Regions from separate parts of the Homo sapiens genome. Here region 1 is linked to region 2. The links come from fine-mapping of genetic effects on gene expression. Tissue or cell type: skeletal muscle. Region 2 holds a variant in brackets; the other region holds the start of a gene. All regions are shown on one strand. Distances are from middle to middle.

Evidence for each region. PIP is the estimated chance that this variant, and not a neighbour inherited with it, causes the effect.
Region 1: it holds the start of ZNF83, and the variant in region 2 is fine-mapped to the expression of ZNF83 in skeletal muscle (GTEx, PIP above 0.99). The same link has a PIP of 0.9 or more in sigmoid colon and tibial artery.

Annotation. Positions count from the first base shown.
Region 1 is chr19:52,636,990-52,639,668 of GRCh38, forward strand. It overlaps ZNF83 (zinc finger protein 83), which reads right to left and starts at 1,366. Exons shown (of 3, transcript NM_018300.4): 1 at 1,323-1,366. It also overlaps the pseudogene LOC124904757. RefSeq lists enhancers at 294-812, 813-1,330, 1,084-1,203 and a silencer at 1,414-1,613.
Region 2 is chr19:52,688,137-52,690,798 of GRCh38, forward strand. It overlaps LOC122539214 (Zinc finger protein LOC122539214), which reads right to left and starts at 2,360. Exons shown (of 4, transcript NM_001396016.1): 1 at 2,307-2,360. It also overlaps a transcript of ZNF83 not described here. RefSeq lists an enhancer at 1,494-2,029 and a silencer at 2,323-2,532. The variant T/C (reference allele first, on the strand shown) is at 1,123.

The sequences.
Region 1 (2,679 bases), 51 kb before region 2:
ATTGTGTACATATCTCTCATTCTCCCCTTCTCTCTCTAGCTCTTGTTTTCTTTTCTTTTTACCTGGCATTCTGCTCCTCATTTTGTACCCCTCTCCTCTCCTGCTGTTTATCCCCTTCTTCCCTCTATTCCTTCTCTTCCACCTCTTCTGCTCCATCCTCGCAACTTACCTAACTTCTTGCTGTTCCTTCTCCCCAATCGTTCTATCGTCCTCAATCTTGATATATTTCCGCCTCTTCTCCCATCTCTGTGCATCCTCTGCTCTCCCTGTTAAATTCCGTCTTCCCTGTTATACCCCCTGTCCCCAATATGTGGAACCACAGATCCCCAGGTGTCCTCCCTGCTGTGGTTCTCCCTCTGTTCTCCTTGCCACCAGCACCACTCTGCTCTGTCTGCCCTGGCTCCAAATCCCTCCTCCTCTCCCTCACTCTGATGAGATTCCCTCTTTGCTGCCCCTCTCCCTACCTTGCTGTCCTTCATCTCTCTGTACATCTAGGTTTCTCTACGTTTCTCCAGTTACTTTTCTCCTCCTGCTTTCTTTTTTTTTCTTTTCACTTTTGCTGTCTCTTGACAAATCCATCACCCACCCTCTACTTTGCCCTCTGTTATGGGTCTTTCTCATTCTTTTCTCTGTCTCAGCTTTTCTACTGCTCTGTCTCCCAATGCCTTTGGCCGACACAATCACAGGAGGGTTTGGATAAGACGCCTGCATCCCGGAGGAGCTCGTTTTCCGGGGGCTGGAGCTGGGCAGGCAAGAACACCCCGTGTCACAGGACAGGCCCCGGGTACCTCCCCAACGCGGGTTCAGGGGAAGAGGTGACTGTGGAGGAGAGACCTGTGGAGCAGCAGGGCCCGCCACGAGGAGGGAGGTGGGGGGGAGACGGCGCCTTAAGACAAGGTTGGGGTCTGCAGGATTCCAGGACCAGGCAAAGTACGCGGCCTCCCTGGGACTGGGGCCCTGGCGCTGCGCTCCAGTGGCCTACGAAGGCGAGGGTGGGAGGCGCCCAGGGCGGGAATCCAGCTCTCGGGTGAGGACTTTAAAAAGCGAGGGGCGGGAGGAGTCAGAAAACAGTTTTGAGCAGGAAAACTACGCGACAGGAAGTGTATACATCGCCCTACAGCAGAAAGACCGGGGACAGCCCAGCCTCAGGGCGACTTTAAACCCAAAAGGAAGCGATATCCGGACTCTCATGGGGACGTCTCAATTTGTCCTGGGTGAAGGAAGAAGGGAGAGAATTTCCAGGTCTGTGGGGACCCCACGTCTCAGGTACAGCAGCGCCGGGGACCTGGTAAGCGCAGACTTAATAGAAGAGCGAAACTCACCGCCACGGTGTAACTTTCACTCCACATAATCCGCTTCCGGGTTTGCGCGCATGTGCGCGCGCAGTACAGAAGCCAGGTCTGGGCGGGGCCCGCGAGGTGGGCGGGGCCTGGATGAGGTAGGGGCGGGGTGGGAAGCCGAGAGACTTTCCCCTTTAGAACCAGCAGTGGGCGGGGCCAGGGCGGGACCTGTGAGTCTCTCAGCATCGTTCCCAGCGCAGAGGCATTTTTCGGGTTTTGGAGGCGAGACCGGCCAGGAAGGCTGAGGCATGATTCAAAAGCCCTGGAATTATCTGGAACGGGGATGCAAACTAGAATGTGAAATGCAAAGCCCTGCCTGGGCGGAAGGTACAATTTCATGCTGATAGCCCACAGAACCGAATAGAAATCCTCTCCCTTTCTATTCTCCATTCACTTGGGAGAGAGTCCACGCTGTGCTCAGCTTTAGAGACTCAGGCCACTGCCTGAGATGCAGGATGGAGTGCTCAGGCCAAGGATGGGTGAGGTCACCACCTGCGGCTTAAACACAGCTGGGATATGGGCGCGGGAGTGGGAGCCTGAGGTCCCAGCTATTCAGGAAGCAGCGGCGGGAGGATCGCCGAGCCTGGGAGTTCAGGCCAGCCTGGGCGACAAAGTAACACCCCCTCCCGCAGGGCTCCCTTCCTCGTCTCTCTCTCTCTTTTCTTTTTTATAATAAAATTTTTGATGATGTTACATAGGGATCCAACATTATTCTTTTCCACGTGGATATCCAGTTAGTTGTCCCAGCGTATTTGTGTAAGAGATCTATCAGTTTCTTTTTTTGTTTCTTGAGATGGAGTTTTGCTCTAGTTGACCAGGCTGGAGTGCAATGGCGCGATCTCTGTCTCCCAGGTTCAATCGATTCTCATGCCTCTATCTCCCAAGTAGCTGGGATCACAGGGATGTGCCACCATGCCCTGCTAATTTTGTATTTTTAGTAGAGATGGGATTTCTCCATGTTGGTCAGGTTGGTCTCAAATTTCCGACCTCAAGTAATCCGCCCGCCTCGGCCTCCCAAAGTGCTGGGATTACAGGTGTGAGCCACCGCGCCCGGCTTATTTTCTTTTATATATTTAGTTTTTTCTATTTTTTTTTTTTTTTTTTTTTGAGGCAGAGTTTTCTTTTTTGGCCAGGCTGGAATGCGGTGGCGAGATCTGGGCTCACTGCAGCCTCTGCCTCCTGGGTTGAACCGATTTTCCTGTCTCAGCCTCCGGAGTAGTTGACATTACAGACGCGCACAACCATGCCCGGCTAATTTTTGTATTTTCGATACAAACGAGGTTTCACTATATTGGCTAGGCTGGTCTCGAACTTCTGACTTCAAGTGATCTGACTGCCT
Region 2 (2,662 bases):
AAACTCACCTACTCATCTGATCCCAAAGTCCCCCTGCCCCTTCTTTTCTTTGGTAACAGGGTCTCACTCTGTTGACCAGGCTGCAGTGCAGTGGCATGATCTTGGCTCACTGCAGCCTGGACCTCCCGAGCTCAAGTGATCCTCCTCCCTTGGCCTCCAGAGTAGCTGGGATTACAGGTGCGCACCATCATACCCGATTAATTTTTTTTTTTTTTTGGCAGAGATAAGGATCTCACTATGTTGTGCAGGCTGGTCTAGAACTCCTGGACTCAAGCAATCCCCCTGCCTCAGTCTTCTAAAGTTCTGGGATTACAGGCATGAACCACTGTACCCAGCCTCTCTTTCTTCATTACTTTGCTTCCTTCCCTGATTCTGTACGTATCTCTCATTCTCCCCTTCTCTCTCTAGCTCTTGTTTTATTTTCCCCCGGGGTTCTGCTCCTCATTTTGTACCTCTCTCCTCTCCTGCTGTTTATCCCCTTCTTCACTCTATTCCTTCTCTTCCACCTCTTCTGCTCCATCCTTGTAACTTATCTAACATCTTGCTGCTCTTCTCCCCAATCTTTTGATCATCCTCTATCTCTATATGGACAGAAATTTAAAAATAATAAGTACTGCATTTATTCACTCCAAGAAAAGTAAAAGCTAAGGCCCACAATGTGGCAAGGCAAGGTTTAAAAATAAAAAGAAAAGAACAAGTTTTCCTCTGCCTGTCAAGCTCACATCAAGAACGGTTACAGGATAACGCTGTCCGAATAGCCAAGTCTAAATGAATGGGCTCCAGACACCCCCACCTTCCAGAGCAAGGTTGAAGGAAAAAAAAAAAAAAAAAAAAAAGAGAGAGATTATTTTACTGTTACTCTTTTTCCAGGCTTCTTAAGCATTATTATGTTTTACAAATGTCTGTATTTAGTCAGTTCTTGTTTTTCCTTTGATGCAGCTACAAGGCCACCGGCAACCCAAGGTCACAAGATATGTTATGCTATAGATTACACAACCTGTCACTGTATAATTAACTGCTTTTGTTTTGCTTTTGTAAGGCCACTTATAAAAACCCTGCTCTGTCTTTGTTCAGTGCTCAGCTTTTTGGATATGAATCCACTGAGCCAGTGCGTACCTAAAA[T/C]AAACAATTCTGTTTCTCTCATATTGGTCTCTCCATTCTTCAGTTTCCCCTAACACAAATATTTCCGCCTCTTCTCCCATCTCAGCGCCTCCTCTGCTCTCCCTGTTACATTCTCTCTTCCCTGTTATACCCTCATCCCCACTCTCTAGCACTCCAGATCCCCAGGTGTCCTCCCTGCTGTGCTTCTCCCTCTGTTCTCCTTGCCACCAGCACCACTCTGCTCTGTCTGCCCTGGCTCCAAATCCCTCCTCCTCTCCCTCACCCTGATGAGCCTCCCTCTTTGCTGCCCCTCTCCCTACCTTGCTGTCCTTCATGTCTCTGTACATCCAGCTTTTCTCTACATTTCTGCACTTGCTTTTCTCCTCCTGCTTTCTTATCGTTTTCTTTTCACTTTTGCTGTCTCTTGGCAAATCCCTCACCCATCCTCTACTTTGCCATCTCTTATGGCTCTTTCTCATTCTTCTTTTCTCTGTCTCAGGTTTTCCACTGCTCTCTGTCCGTCTCCTGATCCCTTTGGCCCACACAATCACAGGAGGGTTTGGAGTAAGACGCCTGCATCCCGGAGGAGCTTATTTTCCAGGGGCTGGAACTGGGCAGGCAAGAACACCCCGTGTCACAGGACAGGCCCCGGGCACCTCCCCAACGCGGGCTCAGGAGAAGCGGTGACTGCGGAGGAGAGACCTGGGGAGCAGCAGGGCCCGGCACGAGGAGGGAGGTGGGGGGCGACGGCGCCTGAGGACAAGGGTGGGGTCTGCAGGATCCCAGGACTAGGCAGAGGACACGGCCTCCCCGGGACAGGGGCCGCGGCGCTGCGCTTCAGAGGCCGACAAGGGCAAGGCTGGGAGGTGCCCACGGCGGGAATCCACTTCGCGGGTGAGGACGTTAAAAAGCGCGGGGCGGGAGGAGTCTGAAAATGATTTTGAGAAAAAAAAAAAAAAAACAACAACAACTACGCGATAGGAAGTGTATACATTGCCCTAGAGCAGAAAGACAGGGGATGGGACCAACCTCAGGGCGACTTTAGACCCAAAAGGAAGCGACTTCCAGACTCTCACGGGGATGTCTCTATTTGCTCTGGGTGAAGACGGGAGAGAAGTTCCAGATCTGTGGGGACCCTAGGTCCGAGGGACAGAAACGCTGAGGACCTGGGAAATGCAGACTTAATACAAAACAGCGAAACTCACCGCCGCGGTGTGACCGTCACTCCACGCGATCCGCTTCCAGATTTGCGAGAATCTGCGCGCGCAGGACAGAAGCCAGGCCTCGGCGGGCCCCGCGAGGTGGTGGGCGGGGCCTGGGCCGGGTGGCGGCGGGGCGCGAAGCAGAGAGACTTTGCGGTTTAGAACCGGCAGAGGGCGGGGCCGGGGCGGGACCTGTGTGTCTCACATCCTGGCTCCCAGCGCCTCTGTTTTTCGGGTTTGGGAGGCGACAGCGGCCAGGAAGTATGAGGCATGATTCAAAAGCCCTGGAATTTTCTGGAACGGGGATGCAAACTAGAATGTGAAATGCAAAGCCCTGCCAGGGCGGAACATAGGATTTC